3 linked regions of the Homo sapiens genome follow. The protein of the gene in region 1 purifies or fractionates together with the protein of each later gene. This does not show direct contact. Each region holds a gene or a part of one and is shown in the gene's direction. Other genes may lie near its edges.

What was found.
Region 2: the proteins of DNAJC3 (region 1) and TENM3 purify together in Homo sapiens (co-immunoprecipitation; 2 studies listed by BioGRID and IntAct, with this or other methods). This does not show direct contact.
Region 3: the proteins of DNAJC3 (region 1) and DEDD purify together in Homo sapiens (co-immunoprecipitation; 2 studies listed by BioGRID and IntAct, with this or other methods). This does not show direct contact.

Annotation. Positions count from the first base shown.
Region 1 is NC_000013.11:95,785,053-95,792,164, forward strand, and holds part of DNAJC3 (dnaJ homolog subfamily C member 3 precursor), read left to right. Parts: intron 1-886; coding exon 887-1,019; intron 1,020-1,954; coding exon 1,955-2,103; intron 2,104-5,820; coding exon 5,821-5,978; 3' UTR 5,979-7,112. UniProt on the Homo sapiens protein: Involved in the unfolded protein response (UPR) during endoplasmic reticulum (ER) stress.
Region 2 is NC_000004.12:182,792,300-182,799,411, forward strand, and holds part of TENM3 (teneurin-3), read left to right. Parts: coding exon 1-1,586; intron 1,587-4,337; coding exon 4,338-4,468; intron 4,469-7,112.
Region 3 is NC_000001.11:161,129,586-161,136,585, reverse strand, and holds the start of DEDD (death effector domain-containing protein), read left to right. Parts: upstream 1-3,918; 5' UTR 3,919-4,035; intron 4,036-4,139; exon of another isoform or gene 4,140-4,195; intron 4,196-5,738; 5' UTR 5,739-5,771; intron 5,772-7,000. UniProt on the Homo sapiens protein: A scaffold protein that directs CASP3 to certain substrates and facilitates their ordered degradation during apoptosis. May also play a role in mediating CASP3 cleavage of KRT18. Regulates degradation of intermediate filaments during apoptosis.

The DNA of each region.
Region 1 (7,112 bases):
CTTAGGTTTGTAATAGTGTTAAAGCCTGTGGGTTACTGAGTCATTCGGATTGTGGACAGTTCCTTCTGTTCCCTTTCTTTCTACAAATTTTTTTTTTCTAGCTTCCCATTGGCCAAACCCACCTCCTGATCCCTTTCTAAATGTCTAATTCTTCTGGACTGTTGTCAATCCATAGCTGACCAGGCCGATTTTCTTTATCACTGTCTTTCTTTCCTGTGTAACAACCACTTAGTCTTAATGGTGGTAAGATTGCTCTGGATAAAGTGCTGATATTAACATATTTACCCAGAGGGTATGGGGAGATAATGCGGGAGGGTGGGCAAGTAAACAGCAGTACATTTTGTTGAATGAGAATAATAAACTACCTAAACTCAGTTTTCATTATTATGCCTTTTAAACCTTTTTTTTTTTTTTTTTTTTTTTTGAGACGGAATCTCACTCTGTCACCCAGGCTGGAGTGCAGTGGTGCGATGTCGGCCACTGCAAACCTCCGCCTCCCAAGTTCAAGCGGTTTTCCTGCCTCAGCCTCCCGAGTAGCTGGGACTACAGGCGTGCACCACCATGCCCGGCTAATTTTTGTGTTTTTTTTTTTAGTAGAGACGGGGTTTCATTGTGTTGGCCAGGCTGGTTTTGAACTCCTGACCCTCATGATCCGCCCACCTCGACCTCCCAAAGTGATGGGATCACAGGCATGAGCCCCTGTGCCCGGCCTCTTAAATATTCTTGATCAAAGTTACTAACGGGGTATCACTTAAGGTTTTTGGCAATAATGGCCAAAGAGTGAAGGGGTTGGGGGATGACGACTTTAGCATCAATTTTACAGGATAAGAAAAGGCAATAAATTATAATTTGCCTTAACAATATTATCTTAAACATATTTTGACAGCTATTCAGGATTATGAAACTGCTCAGGAACACAATGAAAATGATCAGCAGATTCGAGAAGGTCTAGAGAAAGCACAAAGATTATTGAAACAGTCGCAGAAACGAGATTATTATAAAATCTTGGGAGTAAAAAGGTGAATTATTAATTTAAAATTTACTTTGCTATTTTTAATCAACTCTGTTTCAAAGCTAATCATTGCTCTTTTTCCTCTCTGATTCATTTTCTTTACTTATGTAATTTCAGTCATATGGATTAAACCTTAACAGTCTTTAACATTAGAAAGCTACTTTGAGTATTTTATAGGCAAGTTTCTTTGATAGAGACCAATAATGCAACAACAGAATTAGTAGTTGGCAACAAAGATGACACTGTAGCATGAATGGGTCCTAAGCCTAGATTTTTTAAGAAGGGTAAAGGGGTAGGAGTGAGATTCCTTTTGGTGGGGATGGAGGAGGAGACGGAATGAGTAAAGAAAAAGCCTTCTCTAGGCCTAAAAATAAAGTAGTGCTTTCAGAATTAAGTCTGAAATTAAGATCTACCTTATATAAAAGTACATACTAAGTAAATGATACACCTCCCAGTGCCTGTGGGTGAATTCTGAAATTAAGTAAATGATATACCTCCCAGTGGTTCGCTGAGTAAACCATCAATTTTTCAAAATTTGGAATCTTTGTGCTTACTATTAAGTAAGCTAATGCAGAAGCATAATTGAAAGTGGCATTCAGAGTCAAATATTTTTTAATACCAAGAATTGAATTATGGTAACTTGGAAATTCAGAAAGTTAAAAAATTCATTGATGTACCTTTTTTAAAAAAGGGAAAGTTCTAAAGATCAGGAGTGCTTTATTCTCAGTAATCTTAGTGAGCGAGTATCCAAGGAAGCCTGATGTCAGCTTTAATGATCATCCAGAACTGTGTATGCAGATCTTTGGCCTGTGATACCATTGGAACTATTTTATAAAACCAGTTTTGTTAATTGCCAGTAGGATCTTAATCAGCTCTTCTGATTTTTATGATAGTATGTTAGACACTTTTCCACTAATGATTATTTATTTTACCACCCCTCAGAAATGCCAAAAAGCAAGAAATTATTAAAGCATACCGAAAATTAGCACTGCAGTGGCACCCAGATAACTTCCAGAATGAAGAAGAAAAGAAAAAAGCTGAGAAAAAGTTCATTGATATAGCAGCTGCTAAAGAAGTCCTCTCTGATCCAGGTATTATTAGCTTTTATTCCTTTGACTCATCCTAGAGGTGGTGTTAGAAGCGAGGGTGGAACATGTGGTGGGTTCTCCACGTGGGGCTGTATAGGCAGTGACGGGTCCTGAGCCCAGTTCCAGAGGTCCAGTTTTATGCCTGCCCTCATTCAGCCCTCTTATGTTGGGCACCCTCCTGTTGCAGGGTACAGTGGAAAGACTATCAAATGTGGAATCAGAGGGCCTGAATTTGAATCTTTTTTCTACTCAAAGAAGTTATCAGAACTTTTTGGTCTCAGTTTTTTCAACACTGAGCATAAGAGGATCTCTCAGGTTCCCTCTAACCTCAAAGGTCAATGATGAATTTTCTCCACCAAGCTTACAGGAGCTTGATGAGGAAACCAGCTTGCCAGGCTGGATTACATGGAGTGGGAGAAGAACAGCTGTCTGGCCTAGGGCCTGCTTTGCCCCATATGTGTTCACCAGGAATCTTGCCCTGAATCATAGGATCATTAGATTCACAGGCTTATATGTGTTTTTTTTTTTTTTAATTTTTATTTTTTGTAGAAATGGGATCTCACTGTGTTGCCCAGGCTGGTCTTTAACTCCTGGGCTAAAGTGATCTTCCCAAAGTTCTGAGATTACAGGTGTGAGCCTCTGCACCTGGCCACATGTGTTCTTTTGCCATACAGTAATATGGCCTGGAAATTTCGTTAAGAGGGAGACAGGCTAAGCATTGAGGTAATACTGAACAATGCTTTGCTGCTGCCAGAGAATTTCATGTTAAGCTTATACTGCTTTTTTGTGGCCTTCCATGTCAGTGGGAACAGCAGCTGTGATCTGAGCTAAACAAACAAAAGAGAGGAAAGTTTTATGTTTGTCAAATCTTTTTTGAGTACTTACTTATGCAGTGGAATTGAAAGTAAATGATCCTTTGTTTTCAAGTAATTTATAATCCAGTAAAGGAGACAGAAATGTACTTGCAGTGGAATTGAAAGTAAATGATCCTTCGTTTTCAAGTAATTTATAATCCAGTAAAGGAGACAGAAATGTACTTCCCTTATCAAGTAGTGTTGGATACATACTGTCCTGTTACTTAGCAAATACTGAGTGGCTACAACCTGCCTTAAGCAGTTCAATCCTCTTAGTTTGTGCAGTGCACAGGTGTGATAGTGTATCAGACTGGGAGTCAGGATCTTCTTATGTGAGAGGGACTTTGTGCTACGTTTTAAGGTACCAGGGAGCCAACCAAGGGGATGGGTGTCCCTGCACAGAGGCATGCACTGAGGAAAGAGCTGCAGGTCCTTTTTCTTACCTCCTGTTCTTCTGTTCAGGATGAACTATCTTTTCTTTTAAAGACTTTAAAGTTTTTTACTATGCATATATCAAGACGTGTCATATTTAGGAATATGTTTAGTAGAATCACATGATGTATGCCAATCTGAAACTTAATTTTCACTTGAAATAAATCTTGGCTATAGTTTTTTCTCATTGAAAAATGGTTACCTCATTCTTTGAGATGTATGCAGACCACTCCACTGAATTTTTAAGTAATTACATAATGTGAATATAGCTGAATTCACTTCCCCTTCCATTCACAGCATCCTTTCTCTGGGGCCATTATCACCCCCACCCCTACGGAGAGTTCACTACTGTTCTAAGTGCTAACACCCTAGATTAATTTTGCCTGTGAGATATCAAAGATATGGGGCCTGAGTCTAACTGCATTAGCTTTTATAAAACAAAGCTGAGTTTCAGATCACCTACAATACCCGCTTAGTTATTAACACTCAGCATAAGAACCCTCAGTTTTACTGGTGGGTTTCCTCCTCCTAAATATGTGGCTTCAGATTAACCTCCCAGAATGAAGTAAACTGGCTTTTCTCTAAGTATCTTTGAACCCCTAAAGGACAAGTTACTGTGAGAGAGCAAAGCGAGACTTGGGATTATTTTTATATTTGCATTTTTTTCTGCATTCTCTATTTTCCATTTATTAAAAAACCTAGCTATATGCTAAGTCTTTTTATTTTTTTTTTGTAAGTTCAGGGGTACATGTGCAGGTTTGTTACATAGGTAAATGTGTGTTATGGGGGTTTGTTGTACAGATTATTTCATCACCCAGGTATTAAGTCTAGAACCCATTAGTTATTATTCCTGATCCTCTCCCTCCTCCCACCCTTCACCCTCCAATAGGCCCCAGTGTGTGTTGTTCCCCTTTATGCATCCATGAGTTCTCATCATTTAGCTCCCACTTGTGAGAATATGTGGTATTTGGTTTTCTGTTCCTGCATTAGTTTGCTAAGGATAGTGGCCTCCAGCTCCATCCATGCCCCTGCAAGAGGACATGATCTCATTCTTTTTTATGGCTGCATAGTATTCCATGGTGTAGATGTACCACATTTTCTTTATCCAGTCTATCATTGATGGGCATTTAGGTTGATTCCATGTCTTTTCTATTGTGAATAGAGCTGCAATAAACTGATATGTGCATGTGTCTTTATAATGGAACAATTTATATTCTTTTGGGTGTATACCCAGTAATGAGATTGCTGAGTTGAATGGTATTTCTTTCTTTAAGGAATTGCCACACTGTCTTCCACAATGGCTGAATGAATTTACACTGCCACCAATAGTGTATAAGCGTTCCTTTTTCACCACAACCTTGGCAGCATCTATTTTTTTTACTTTTTAATAATAGCCATTTTTTATTTGCAATAATGATCTAATTATTTGCTCTAGTGATCAGTGATGTTGAGCTTTTTTTCATATGATTGTTGGCCGCATATATGTCTTCTTTTGAGAAGTGTCTGTTCATGTCCTTTGCCCACTTTTTAATGGGGTTGTTTTCTTGTACATTTAAGTTCTTTGTAGACCTTTGTCAGTTGCATAGTTTGCAAAAATTTTCTCCCATTCTGTAGGTTGTCTGTTTACTCTGTTGATAGTTTCTTTTGCTGTGTAGAAGCTCTTTAGTTTAATTAGATCTCATTTGTCAATTTTTGCTTTTGTTGCAATTTCATGATGGAAACACCAAAAGCAATCTTTGCTCATACCTATGTCCTGAATAGTATTTGCCTAGGTTGTCTTCCAGGGTTTTTCTAATGACTCTGAGGACATGAGCTCTTTCTTCCTATCCCTGCAATATTCCTCTTTATTGCCTTCTCCCATGTCTCTGCATTGATCTCTCTCTGTTCGGGGCTCAGAGGCCCCGCTGTGGGGGCACCAATTGCATGGGAGGGAAAGGTGAACCTCCTGGAGTTGTATGTTATGGAGGCCCCGCTCCCCTCATGTCTGAGGAGCCTTAGTGCTAGAATGCTCATTAGATGCTTGATGAGGTCATTGCCTTACAGACTTTATTTTGGGGATTAGGGTGGTGAGCTGGCTGTTTCATTAGAATTGTAGACTCTTGGAAGTTTCTCTTGAATTATTTTTTTCCAAATAATTTCATTGGGTAGTTATCAAGCTTGGGTGGCTTCTTCTGGAGTGAGATTTAGGGGCCTGAATCTCAATAAATACCTATTATCAACCCTGAACCTCACCCTCCTTGTGGCAAATTTCTCTAGTCTGTTTCTTCAGGGTGGGAATGGGAGAGCCTGGATTTGAATGTCAGGCACAACTCTTGATAACCGAAAAGTAAGTAGCTCCTCAAGCCCACCCACCCTCCTCTGCCCAAAGAAAACATTCCCCCTGCCCCTATACCTTAGATATTATCTGGTTCTTAATTTTCTGATTTCTTTCTAGAAATGAGAAAGAAGTTTGACGACGGAGAAGATCCTTTGGATGCAGAGAGCCAGCAAGGAGGCGGCGGCAACCCTTTCCACAGAAGCTGGAACTCATGGCAAGGGTTCAATCCCTTCAGCTCAGGCGGACCATTTAGATTTAAATTCCACTTCAATTAAACCAACTGTTTTTCTGCTCTTCTTAATTTTTTTAAAGATTAAAAACAAAGAAATCTTGTTCCGGGACCCTAATGAAAAAAAATTTCAAATCTTTTCAGTTTGTCCATGACCAAAGAGTTGCTTTAATAGGAAAAAATCTGTTCTTATCCCTGTCAGATTTATGGTTAATGGGTTTGCAACGGCAAGGAGGCAAGGAATGGTTCTATTTCTGACAGAGCAGCCTGCATCTGCTTTATGCTGTCTGGAGGGAAGTGGTCTGAGGCAGGCTCACCCGTGGAAGTGCTCACGTATTCTGTATTATTTTTCTACACTGGAGCTGAGATTCTTCTCTTCACAGCCTTGCAGAGTAAGTCAGTGCCTACAAGTGTAAGAAGGAGCTGTAATCTTCATGAGGATGGTTATACTTCAGTATTCTTAAAGAGAACATGAACATTTTTGAGCTGTATGTTCTTAGGGACAACTGTGCTTCGATGTGGTCAGTCTCGTCACTTGTGAGTAGCTGTGAAATCTTTAGTGTGCATGTGTTTGCACCTCTGTGGTCTGTCAACGTGGCTGTCACTGAAGGAGCAAGAGACCATCTTTTAGGAACCCTGCCACCAAATAATAATATATCCAGGCTTAGACTTTGGATTAATGTTAAATGTACATTTTTTTGGTTCAGTACCTGAAGAAGAATACTGAAACTTGAATCTATAAATTCCTATGGACCCTTTTAATATTAAACACAACAAATTAAAAGTTGTTATAGGTAAAATAAGTTCAGATAAAATAGTGGTGGTATTTAAAATAATATTGCTGAAGTGCAGATTGAAATACTTTTTAAACAACTGAAGTTCTGAGTTTTTATAGGGAATTTCATGTAACAAGACTGGTTTAGAAACGTAAAGTTGCGCAGTCAACATAAATAAATACAGAATGCCATGTTCTCCACTTCTAAGTAAAGACAGTGGGCAGCTTCTGTTTCTCCTTCTATCAAGGCTTCACCCTATCTTAAAGGTCTGTGGTGCCTCCCACGTGGGACCTGTCTGCTGGTATGTGTTAAACAGCAGACCGGCCCTTCTACCAGATCTTGATGCCTCTGATTTTCTCCTGCCTACAAGAAAATACAGGCAAGGTTAGTCAGGTCTGGCTATA
Region 2 (7,112 bases), on another chromosome or scaffold:
GCGGCAGTACATCTTCGAATACGATATGTGGGACCGCCTGTCTGCCATCACCATGCCCAGTGTGGCTCGCCACACCATGCAGACCATCCGATCCATTGGCTACTACCGCAACATATACAACCCCCCGGAAAGCAACGCCTCCATCATCACGGACTACAACGAGGAAGGGCTGCTTCTACAAACAGCTTTCTTGGGTACAAGTCGGAGGGTCTTATTCAAATACAGAAGGCAGACTAGGCTCTCAGAAATTTTATATGATAGCACAAGAGTCAGTTTTACCTATGATGAAACAGCAGGAGTCCTAAAGACAGTAAACCTCCAGAGTGATGGTTTTATTTGCACCATTAGATACAGGCAAATTGGTCCCCTGATTGACAGGCAGATTTTCCGCTTTAGTGAAGATGGGATGGTAAATGCAAGATTTGACTATAGCTATGACAACAGCTTTCGAGTGACCAGCATGCAGGGTGTGATCAATGAAACGCCACTGCCTATTGATCTGTATCAGTTTGATGACATTTCTGGCAAAGTTGAGCAGTTTGGAAAGTTTGGAGTTATATATTATGATATTAACCAGATCATTTCTACAGCTGTAATGACCTATACGAAGCACTTTGATGCTCATGGCCGTATCAAGGAGATTCAATATGAGATATTCAGGTCGCTCATGTACTGGATTACAATTCAGTATGATAACATGGGTCGGGTAACCAAGAGAGAGATTAAAATAGGGCCCTTTGCCAACACCACCAAATATGCTTATGAATATGATGTTGATGGACAGCTCCAAACAGTTTACCTCAATGAAAAGATAATGTGGCGGTACAACTACGATCTGAATGGAAACCTCCATTTACTGAACCCAAGTAACAGTGCGCGTCTGACACCCCTTCGCTATGACCTGCGAGACAGAATCACTCGACTGGGTGATGTTCAATATCGGTTGGATGAAGATGGTTTCCTACGTCAAAGGGGCACGGAAATCTTTGAATATAGCTCCAAGGGGCTTCTAACTCGAGTTTACAGTAAAGGCAGTGGCTGGACAGTGATCTACCGTTATGACGGCCTGGGAAGGCGTGTTTCTAGCAAAACCAGTCTAGGACAGCACCTGCAGTTTTTTTATGCTGACTTAACTTATCCCACTAGGATTACTCATGTCTACAACCATTCGAGTTCAGAAATTACCTCCCTGTATTATGATCTCCAAGGACATCTTTTTGCCATGGAAATCAGCAGTGGGGATGAATTCTATATTGCATCGGATAACACAGGGACACCACTGGCTGTGTTCAGTAGCAATGGGCTTATGCTGAAACAGATTCAGTACACTGCATATGGGGAAATCTATTTTGACTCTAATATTGACTTTCAACTGGTAATTGGATTTCATGGTGGCCTGTATGACCCACTCACCAAATTAATCCACTTTGGAGAAAGAGATTATGACATTTTGGCAGGACGGTGGACAACACCTGACATAGAAATCTGGAAAAGAATTGGGAAGGACCCAGCTCCTTTTAACTTGTACATGTTTAGGAATAACAACCCTGCAAGCAAAATCCATGACGTGAAAGATTACATCACAGGTAAGCATTTTGATTCCTTCCCAAGAGCTGGAGGACTACCATCATTAGATTAATACACAAAATAACTGGAAATGCTTTTTTAAAAAACTTTATACTTTACTCAGGCAAAGGCAAATGGCTAACCTTTTAAATGTGTTTATTTCTTTATGGAACCATAGAGAAATCACAAAGGGAAAATGAGACATATTTACTTCCTATTCTGCCTGCCATTGCCCAAGGCCACAAGTTTTTGAAATGACATGTACTCAGTCATTTAAAGAAGGGGAACATGGGGGACCAAAAAACATGATGAACACAGAGTCCCAAAATTGGAGTCCCAATCCCAGCTCCTCTCCCACAAGTTGTGTAGCTCTGTAAGCAAGCCATATGTTTTTTGAGTTTCCATTCCCTTAACTATAAAATTGGGATAATAATGGCTAACTTAGGGCACAAATATAATACATGAAATTCTGCAACAGATAGTAACTACCTTACGAATGTGTCATGTTGGGTTTTTTTAATACATGTGTGAAGTTCTCATGGAGATAATTAAGGTGAAACACAATACAAGGTGACACCATTTCATCCCTGGGAGGTGTTTAATTCCTGCCTCACCACCATTGCCTCAGGACAGTCACGAAGCCATTTCTCCCATCAGTTGCTTAGACAATGGATCCTGTGTCTGGACTCACTTCTGTCTTCTTACATCACTGTCTTCATTGCCAGTGCAGTTCTTGCATGGTGACAATACTAATAGGCATACTAATTTTTCCACGAATGTGGGATAATTTTCAGGGTACAGATTTAAGATCTTTCCAAGTTTAGTGCATGCTACCTTTTTAGTTATGCAAGATGTAGAACATCAGATCCCACTTCTGCCACCATGGAACAACCAGCATGTGAAACAGACAAGGTCCTTGCAAGCATTACTCTAGTTCCCTTTAGTGAGCTGACTTCTTCACTCAACCTCTACTCCAAGAATTCTGAATCCTGCTGCTCCTACCTTCCATTCCTGATATACAGCACCATCATTAACCCCTCTACCACATTTATATTTCCAGGAGGAAGGTTCTTTCCTGTTGTCTTTTTTTTTTGGGCTTGATTTAAGGTATTTTGGTTTTGTTTTGGCTTGTGTTAGATGCTCCTTTAGGCTGCCTCTTTTCTAGCTCAATATTTGAGGCATACTGAGATGTCTGTTCTCTCAGTTCTCAAAACAGCTCTCAACAGGTTGCCCCCTGTTCATTTCACATCTGCTTCCTACCTTTCCAGACTGTCTAAAGCATTTCATATCTCTTCCATGTGAACCAGCTGAAAGTCCCTCCTTTCTGCCTCCTGATTCAGCAGCACCCTTATTCTCATTCAGGGTTTTTCAATACACATCTGCCTTCAAACCCCATTATTTTGGCAGTACTTTTCAATACTTACGGTCCTCTGATTTTCACTGTTATGCAGACATTGTTCAGAGTAACAGAATTTTTGCCCCCAATACTCCAACATTTGGGAGAATTTTCTCCCAAAATAAGGCCCTCCCACCCCCAAACTCATATACACTCTTACATACACACAAATTGTGTCACTTTGCATCCTGTGTGAACCACTTAGGATTTATGTCTCCCCACCACCACTACTACCACCCCATTTCAAATAAAAAGAATACCACTGGTTTTATAGCCATATGATGCCTGGACGAATGACCTGCCAGCCTGGCAATGAGGTGAGAGTCTGTGCCCTAGAGAAGGAAATGGGAATCAAGTGGCTCTCCATCATTCTGACAGGCAGTTTACCACTGGTTATTTAAGGGGTGTTGACAGGGGCTGACTGAAAGTCTGGAAAGCCCACAGCTCCTGAATTCATCCTCTCCTAGCAACGTGGACTGCAGGGAATGCCATAGCAGCATTTTCTGAAAAACATCAAAAGAGAGATGGAACAGCATAAAATATATTAGGTGAAATGCAATTTCAAATTTTCCAGCAATGTGCTTAATATATAAAATAATCTACACCCAACCGTTCTCATAAAGCTGCAAGCCTGCTGAGTAGTTCTGTAACATTATAACCTCCAGAATAGAATAAAAGCCTTATTCTGAGCTGAATGGCTTTTGGAGTCACATGGCAATATTTTAAAATACCACCTTAAAGGTTTCCGGGTTCTCTCCCCAAAAAGTTTGTCTCCACCTGTGCACAGTGAGCCTTTGAAGTCACAACTGATGGTAATCAGGACTTCTGGGCCCTTGGCCAGTTTTGCCAGCTTGCAGCATTCATCTTTGATTAAGAATCAACTGTTGATTTTAATACTCTCAATTTAGGGGTTTTATTAATAGAAAATGGGTTGTGGAAGTCCGCATATCCTTGGGCAATCGCTTTGGAGAGCTAATAACACACAACTTCTATTTGAGACCAGCCTTGACCAACTACAAAATAAATTTCGTTTCTTTTCTACAAGTATGTCTCTCTCCTGCTGCTGTGCATTGTTCTTACCTTTGCTAGCACTGTTACTAGCACAGGCTGCAACTTAGCAGGACTGATGGCTTACCCAGTCTGTCTGAGCATCTATTACTCGCATTTTTCGTAGCATTTGCCATAGTTCTGCTGTGAAGGTTACCGTCTTCATGTCTAAAAACAGTAGGTTTAGATTTGTAGGACGAAAGCAAACAGGTGCTCTTTTTCAGATTATTAATTGTGAAATTGGATTTTCTTTTTAAGGTAAGAATTTAAATTTATGAAAGGACAAAACAAACTCCAACACCTTTCATTCTGAACATTCTTCTCCTAGATGTTAACAGCTGGCTGGTGACATTTGGTTTCCATCTGCACAATGCTATTCCTGGATTCCCTGTTCCCAAATTTGATTTAACAGAACCTTCTTACGAACTTGTGAAGAGTCAGCAGTGGGATGATATACCGGTAAGAAACAAAAAGACCTACGGAAAGGTGATAAGTAGCTTGTGTCTTATCTACCCATATCTAATCAAACTACCCTTGTGAAAACTGTACCAAAGACAGTTTTTAACTTTTTGACTGTTTTAGGGAAAAAAAACAACACTTCCTCTGCATTTGTGTTCAACAAACCAGAGGCCTCTTAAACAGGCTTAAATATGTTTTCAGCAATGCTAATGAAAACATAGAAATGCAGAAGCTCACTTTCGAGTGCTGGGTTTCTAAAAAGAACCCCAAGAAAGCGTGGACCTGAAGGCAAAAATACAATAAACAAAAGGGCAGGGAACTCATATTACAAATTAGCAAACCACAAACAATGCCACAAGGTTCAACTTCTTTAAAAATTAACAGTGTTTTGGCCGAGTGAGGGGGCTCACGCCTGTAATCCCAGCACTTTGGGAGGCCGAGGAGGTCGGATCACCTGAGGTCGGGAGTTCGAGACCAGCCTGACCAACATGGAGAAACCCCATCTCTACTAAAAATACAAAATTAGCCCGGCATGGTGGGGCATGCCTGTTATCCCAGCTACTCAGGAGGCTGAGGCAGGAGAATCACTTGAACCTGGGAGGCGGAGGTTGCAGTGACCCGAGATCACGCCATTGTACTCCAGCCTGAGCAACAAGAGCGAAACTCCGTCTCAAAAAAAAAATAATTAATTAATTAATAGTGTTTCATAGGAAAAGATTAAAAATAAAAATAAATGTCCTCTGGTAAGGCTCCACCTACAACCAGGAAGGTTTATGGAATTTTCCTGAGAATAGCAGATCAAGAGGCCTGTAACCATTATAAGAAATAAAGAAATATAATAGAAAATTGCAAAGTCAAAGCTGCCGCTTCAGAAAGTGGTACTTCTAATCCCCACCAGAGACCAGAAAGGAATGCACAGCAAAACACCAGAATTTCCAGCTTACAGTAAGAATAATTAGAGATGGAGAAACTGGGTGACTCCATGATCATAAGGAGAAGACAGTGCAGACTTTCTTAGGACAATTAATTCCCAACCACCCCTTGAGCAATTTCCTATCATTTCAATGAAAACAAAGAGAAGAGGCAGCCATGGTTAACACACACACAGGCTATCTACAGTACCAGTACCTGTTTTTTGTTGTTTCATACCTAATATAAAAGCAATTCCTTTTTCATAAGTTACAAATATAGTCGTGTGTGTGCAACATTTTGGTCAATGACAGACCTTGTATAAGGTGGTGATCACATAAGATTACAATATCATATATATTTTTTTTTAATTGAAATGGGGTCTCACTGTGTCACCCAGGCTGGAGTGCAGCCTTGACCTCCTGGGCTCAAGCGATCCTCCCACCTCAGGCTCCCAAGTATCTGGGACTACAGGCACGTGCCACCACACCCAGCTAATTTTTTATTTTTTGTAGAGATAAGAGTCTCCCTGCGTAGCACAGGCTGGTCTTGAACTCCTGGTCTCAAGCGTTCCTCCTGCCTCCACCTACTGAAGGGCTAGGATTACAGGCATGAGCCACCGGGCTCTGCCAACACTGTGTTTTTACTGTACCTCTTCTATGTTTAGATACACAAGTACTTACCATGGTGTTACAGTTGCCTGCAATATTCAGTACAGTCACACCGTATACAGGTTTGCAGCCTAGAAGCCATAGGCCATCCCATACAGCCTACGTGTGCAGTAGGCTACACCATCTAGGTTTGTGTAAGTGCCCGCTATGATGTTCACACAAGGACGAAATGGCCTAATGCCACATTTCTCAGAATGCCTCCCTGCGGTTAAGCAGTGCATGACTGTCTACACTGATACAGTGGCATGAAGACATACCGAAGTTTCCTAATGCATTTGAACATGCACTTCCTAATTGTGTATGACTTTCCAACATGCCTGAAAACACCTACATCTAACTGTACAAATGGACTTGCCAGCTCTTTTCCTAAGCAGCCTTTTAAATATGGTTCAAGTTCTCTGTCAAAAGAAGTGCACCATAAGGACAGCATAGGAAATCGTGGGCAAAGACACTGAGGCTGCCCCAAGTACAGAAAAACAACTGTTTCTTTCATTGCCGCAAATGAAACAGATGTTTTCATTTGGGAAACAATGGCCAGACAAACATCTGGTGGTATAAGAAATGGCTGAGTTAAGATGCCCCCAATTTAAAACATTTGCCAGTCTAGACGGTCCACTGTCCCTAAGTCTGAGAAAAATAATTGTTTTCCTAAAGTAACAAATATCGTCTCCAGCTGCCCCACCTTCCACTCATCCCTGTACATTTCAGTTCTGCGGTTACACTCACCATCTTCAGCTGAAAACTCTGCCAGGAGAGGGGACAGAGTTGACTTAAATACAAGCATTTCAAAGCATACGAAGCGGGGCCCTGTGATCGGCACTAAGTATCCCCAGCCGTTCAGATCCCTCTCTGTGTTTGGTGGCTTCTCAGCCTCCTGTGGAGAAAGCTACGAGCATGCAGATCCGGATGAGCTGGGTTCCCCACGTGGGGTGGGAGTGGGAAAAGAGCATCTAGAAACTGTAAGAGAAAAGCAAGAAACAGGACTATTTTTCCCATGTTAGAAACGAAGAAAGCTTTAAAGTGATCCACGATGAGTGAGCCATTTGGGGGTTCCAGAGCATCGG
Region 3 (7,000 bases), on another chromosome or scaffold:
TCCTCCCACCTCAGCCTCCCAAATAGCTGGGACTACAGGCAAGTGCACACCCACCTAATTAAAAAAAAATTTTGTAGAAATGGGGTCTCTCACTATGTTGCCCAGGCTGATCTTGAACTCCTGGCCAAAGTATTGGGATTACAGGTGTGAGCCACCACACCCAGCCAGGGTATCATTATTAAGTGTAGTAAGATTGATGGTGCCAGCACTGGCTGGTGTTGACTTGAAGACTCACTGAAAGACTGGGACTGGCAGCCATGATGCATAAGGGCAGAATAGCCTGGGGGTTGTACTGCCCAGTGATACTTGGGGAAAGGTTCAAGATCTGGATTTGACTCTTGTGCCAAGCTTCCAAGAAACCTAGGTTCAGAGGTAAGAGCACCTTTCCTATCAGCTGCCTCTGTGGGGACATCTGACACTTTCAACATCCACCCCCTTGAAATACTCTTCCCTTTGATTCTGTGACAATTATCTCCCAGGTTTTCTTCTTCTTCACTCGCTGTTCCTTTTCAAAGATTCTCCAAGAGCTCTTTTTCTACTTGTGCCTTAAATGTTGGAATTTCCGAGAGCACTCTTCTTAGCCCTCTGCTCTTTTCTGGGGAGCTTATCCAAATCTATGGCTTCAACTACCACCGAAATGTTGATGTTTCAGAATTTCTGGCCTATATATCACAGGGCTTTCTAAAAAGTAGTTTTCTGGCCAGGTACCATGGCTCACGCCTGTAATCCCAGCACTTTAGGAGGCCGAGGAGAGTGGATCACGAGGTCAAGAGTTTGAGACCAGCCTGGCCAACATAACGAAACCCCGTCTCTACTAAAAATACAAAAAATTAGCCAGGCATGGTGGCGTGCACCTGTAGTCCCAGCTACTCAAGAGGCTGAGGCAGGAGAATTGCTTGAACCTGGGAATCAGAGGTTGCAATGAGCTGAGATGTGCCACTGCACTCCAGCCTGGGTGACAGAGCGAGACTGTCTCAAAAAAGAAAAAAAAAAAGTAGCTTTCTGTAAAATAATATGTGCATAATAAAATAATTTCAAGCAATAAAGATAGATGTAAAATGAAAAGTATAAGTCTTATCCCTCCTAGGCCCACTCTTCATAATTTTTTAATGCATGTGTAAATGTGTCATATTTATTCTGTGCTTGCTTTTTTTCTCCACTTATATTTTTCTCTTAAGTTTTAGATCTGTGTATTAAACATGCCACTAGGACATATCTATCTAGCTATCTCACAGGTACCTAAAACTTCTTCACCTTCTTTGGAATTCTCCCTCCTGCAACACCCTACCACTAGTCTCCTTTTTACATCAACACCATGAAAAAACTGTCTTTATACGTTGTGCCTTCTCAATTCAATCTGGTTTCTATCCACCATAACTACAAAACAGCTTTCTCCAAATTTCCTAAATGACCTCCTTGTTGCAGTATCTTTTTTGGGGGGACAGAGTCTCACTGGAGTGCAATTGTGCAATTTCGGCTCACTGTACCTCCGCCTCCTGGGTTCAAGCGATTCTCCCACCTCAGCCTCCCAAGTAGCTGGGATTACAGGTGCCCGACACCATGTCTGGCTAATTTGTGTATTTTTAGTAGAGATGGGAGTTCCACCATGTTGTCCAGGCTGGTCTCGAACTCCTGACCTCAGGTGATCGGCCCACCTCGGTCCCCAAAGTGCTGGGATTACAGGTGTGAGCTACCACACCTGGCCTTTTTATTTATTTGTTTTATTTACAAAAAAACCAAAGTCTTGTTCTGTTGCCGAGAGTGCAGTGGTGCAATCTTGACTCACTGCAACCTCCGCCTCCTGGGTTCAAGTGATTATCATGTTTCAGCCTCTGGAGTACCTGCGATCACAGGTGCGCACCACCATGCCCAGCTAATTTTTGTATTTTTTGTAAAGATGGGGTCTTGCCATGTTGACCACACTGGTCTCCAGCTCCTGGTCTTAAGTGATTCACCTGCCTAGGCTTCCCAAAGTGCTGGGATTACAGGTGTGAGCCACTGTGCCTGGCCCTTGTTGCAATATCTGATAGATACATTTTATTTACTTTATTTTATTTTTTTGGAGACAGAGTCTCACTCTGTCACCCAGGCTGGAGTGCAGTGGCACGACCTCAGCTCACTGCAACCTCTGCCTCCTGGGTTCAAGCGATTCTTGTGCCTCAGCCTCCCCAGTAGCTGGGACTACAGGCGCGCACTGCCATGCCTGGCTGATTTTTGTATTTTTAGTAGAGACGGGGTTTCACCATGTTGACCAGGCTGGTCTCCAGCTCCTGACATCAGGTGATCTGCCCGCCATGGCCTCCCAAAGTGCTGGGATTACAGGAGTGAGCCACAGCACCCGGCCTATTTATTTCATTTTTTTTGAGACAGGGTCTTGCTCTGGTGCCCAGGCTGAAATGCAGTGGCGCGATCTCGGCTCACTGCAACCTCTGCCTCCTGGGTTCAAGCAATTCTCATGCTTCAGCCTCCCAAGTAGCTGGGATTACCGGCATGTGCAACCACACCCATCTAATTTTTTTTGTATTTTTAGAAGAGACAGGGTTTCACCATGTTGGTCAGGCTGGTCTCGAACTCCTGGCCTCAAGTGATCCACCCGCCTCGGCCTCCCAAAGCTAGGATTACAGGTGTGAGTCACCATGCCCGGCCCTGATGTATATATTTTAGTTAGCATTTTACTATATCTCTGTTACACTAAACGCTTTCACCAGTTTCCTTGATAGTTCTCTATGGTTTTCTTCTTTCCTTTCGGTTTGCCCCTTCTCAGTGTTCTTTTCGGCTTCCCTCATCCTATCCCGCAAATGCAGGTATCCTCTCCAGCCCACTTCATGGCTTCAACAGCTATCTATATGCACACGCACACACACCTCAAACCTTTCTTTTGAGTTCCCAACCCACATTAGCTAATATCCCAGGGGCACCTAAAACTCATTATCTCCCCCCTAAACGAGAAAGAAACTGGTATCATTATTCCCCAGTTGTCCAAGTCACAACATTCGTACCTCTTAAACCAATCTGTATCTCCCCATCCGCACTCTCCCTTCCACAGGCAGACCATCATCATCCTTGCCTGGAAAAGAGCCTCACAACTGCTCTCCTTGATTCTCCTCAATTCATTCATCCTTCACACTGCACGCAGCGATCTAAAATGCAAATGAAATTGTTCACACCTCTGCTGAGATTCTTCAAAGACTTTTCATTGCCTTAAGGATAAAAATCAATTAATTTACAAGGCTTCGCATAATCTGGTCTTCCCCTATCTATTACCACTTTCTTAAGCCACACCAGAACGTACCCGCACCATCCTCCCCACCCCCAATTCCCAACAGCCCTACACGGATCAGCTAGGCGACACTTCCTACAGGAAACCGGCGTTCAAAAGGTAAATGCTGAACAAATGAATTCCGAGACGGGATCTGGGCACCACTTTCGGCTCCGGATCCGGGTTTACGGAACGTCCGGGTTATCAGGAAGCTCAGAGGAAAGGTGAAATCCAGATCTTGACCCTTCACTCAAGTTCGCCAGACAAACCGATCCCCGTGGTATTCCGCCCTTATGAGTCATGGCTGCCAATCCCAGCCTTCCAGTGGGTCTTGAAGTCGCCACCAGCCAGCTGTGGCGCCACCAATGTTTCCCATTCAAGAATGCTATCCTCTTCGATCCCTTATTACCGCCCTAAGCAGCCGTCAAGACAAACCGGCGTTGCCAGCTTGCCCCAAAGCAAGATGGCTGCCAATCTCTATCTCTCCTCCCGAAGTGAAGCTATCCACTCCCCGATTAATGCCGCTGCCAGGCTGCCCTCACTTACTATGGCTACTCCGGCTCATGTCTCACTATGGCCTCGAAGCCGCCACTAACCGGCCGGGTTCCGGGAGGCGCCGTTCAGGATGCAGCCACCCCCGCCCGCCTGTCCCCTCCCCCACGGCCGCGGCGGCGGCGGCGGCGGCGGCTGCTGGAGCCCGGATGCGGCGCCGTGAGGCAGGCCCGGGAGAGCGGCGCGGATGGATCCAACATGGCGGCGCCGAGCCTGAGCCGAGAGTGAGGCGGAGGGGCGGCCGGAGTGGGGAGAGGGAGTCGAGCGGGACGGGGCGGGGCCGGGCGGGGCCGCAAAGGGCTTGGGGAAGGAAAGTGGAGGGGGAGGCGGTGGCGACGTCCAGCCTGAGAACCTCAAGAGAGGGAGGTGACGGGACGCTGAGAGGTGGGGGAGGGGAGCTGCCGAGGGGGGCGTGCAGGGGAGATGGCAACTGCGGGAGAGGGCAGGGGTCGAGACGGAGGAGTGAGGGCATGGGGAGGGGCGTAAACAAGGGCTGAGACTGGGCCCAGCCAGGGGTATTAGAGAGGCCGAGGTGGGGAGTGGGGCTGCGATCCGCTCGTATTGAAGGGGGTAGGAGCAGGAGGGAGAGGCTGAGGGTGTGAAGGGGAAGGGGGCTGTGGCATGTGGTTGGAGGGAGGACTGGACTCTGATGAGGGGTGTTGCGAGGAGGTGGGTAAAGGTCAGAATTGGAGTTAAGACGTTTCTGGGGGGCTTCGAAAGTGTTAAATTGGAGGTGGGAGGGGGAAGGGCCTAGGGGAGAATTTGGGTGGAAAAGGAGAGAACGGAGGCTTGGGGAATGGAGAGAGTGTCGGTGGGAGGAGGTAATGGAGAAAGTGAGAGACTGGGAGGAAGAAAGTTTGGGAGGAAGGGGAGTGGAATGGGAGATAGGACAGTGGAGCTGCACGGGTGATAGAGGTTCGGGGGTTTCCCTTTCCCCGGTGGAGAGGAGGAGAGAACAGAGTTAAGCAGCATCAGTTGCAGCCAATTCTAATTGCCAGGCCCTTAGCTTTTAAGAGGGTGGGAAGGGCAGAAGGGAATGGTCATGTGGGTTTGCAGAATTGGGGTTGGATGAGAATTCAACTGGGTTTGTTTTCCAAAAGACTCCCTAGCTTACTGTTCCCTTGTTTTTCCTGCTTGGGAAAATGGGGAAGCCGGTGTCGCCCAAGTGTGGAGGAGCAAAGGACTTTTCTAGTTTTTAGCATTAGCAATACAAGAGTGGGGGAGCAGACATGGCTATATTGGAACCCTATATGCTAAGGTGGAGGCTCTGGAAGTCTGAGGAGGGAAAGAGAAAAGATAGAGTGGCATCTAGACAGGTTAATTAAATGAGTGCTGTAGTTTCCAGACCCTTTTGCTGTTTTAAGTCTGGAAGGGAGGGGGTAACATGGATACTGTATGTAGAAAAACTTTTCCCTGGTGAAACATAGACGTATGAGTGGATGCTGCGCCATTAGATATTTTGTTCTCATTGTGTGCTAGTTAAGGGAAAGGGCCAAATGTAGAATTTGGAGGATAGTGCTGGTCTGCTGTAACCACTTTCCTCCCAGTTTTTTCTAAAGGTGAAAGTTAACGTTAATATTGTAACAAAATAGGAATAAGGAATTGTGGAGGAAGATGAGAAGCTGCCAGAGGGTAATTGGTTTTCCCAGAAGTTCTTAAATTTGGGAGCTGTCTTGCCGCAAGCCATTGAGACTGGAAATTCTTGGAGTTGGTATTGTTTTTGTAAATTGACTAATAGAGAGTTAGGGAAGCCTGGAGACTTGTTGGGGGTGAGTTCTCTAAATGGTTTTAGGCTTGTCTGTGTACTTTTGCAACGAGATTGTCTAATTCTATGGGCCTCTGAGGTTTCAAAGTAAAACTTGAAAATTAATTATTTTCCCCTCCTTATTTGTTTTTGTTTTGCTGCTGGCTGTGAAACTTGTGCTAGGAAGAGACCTGGGAAATTAAGTTTCTTGCGGAGGTAAGTCTGGAACTTTTTTATTGTTTTCAAACAATGGAAGGGAATGGAAATAGCATGGGAGTTATTTTGAGGTTGGGTCCATTAATGAGGAGGAGAATGCCAGGGAAAATGAGTTATCATTCATCCATCTGAGTGCATGAGATCTGTTGTAATCACTGTCTTTAGTTAATTGGAGATAGGAGGTGAAAGAGAAGGAGATTTAGATGTCTTGGGACAATCCCCCAGCTTTGGTTTGTTATTGTCTAGTCTTCTTGGTCAGCTCTGAAACATTTTTTTTTTTTAACATATGGAAGGCTGTATTCTAGTACATTGTCTACTAAATGTTGCCCTTGGAGGGTTGCTGGGACACCTTCCTTCCGTGGGAAACTTTTCCTCTAACTTTCTCTTTCAGCTGTTGGGGGGTTCCTGGCATCCTTCTTTTGAAAACATACTATGTAATTCTGACTTCCAGATATTTGATTACATTTCCTATCCCACCAGCAAGAATGTACTCTTAACCATCTTTAAGATTTTCTATGTAGTTTTAATTTAAGTTTCAAGATACCACTTTTTTTTGTAGTTCTTCTGCATGACTTTTCCTCTGAGGACTTCTGAGAGAGTCAGATATCTCTTAATTCTATGAAATTACAAATATCATCCCTGTTCAGAAAAGATGACTGTCATTTTCATTTCAAGACAGCACTCTTTTTTATTTCTTTCATGTCGCTTTCCCCTAAGGGCTTCTGAGAGAGCCAAGTACCTCAAAAACTACAGATATTCCTGGTTGGGATGAGACCAGACTTTGCTTGGAAGTAGAAACATAGTAGAGAAGGACCAATCAGGAGGAAATCCTGAAGATACCTATAGACTGTTGGCCCTTGGCTGACTTGGACTTCTCTAAAGAAAAAAGCAAAACTCCAGGAAATACAACAATTCCTCAGAATCAATTATTCTTGGGAAACTGTAGGGGAGAATTCATGTGTTACTATCTCAAATACAGCCAGACCAGTCAGTGGGATCAGGACTTTCTGTGTGCTGGAGTTTCGTCTCTTGGTATTTGGCAGTGTTTCAGATACCAAGACTTGAGTTAGTTCTAATTTTCTGTTCAGAGGGTTACATTCTCCTCACCATTCTGATACCTGTCATCTAGAATCTCTGTATGTTTTAAGTTGAGCTCCCTTGCTTCACTGTCACAGAAATACGAGTATATTTTGGTTTTAGAGGAAATTGGTCATGTTTTCTTTTCTAAT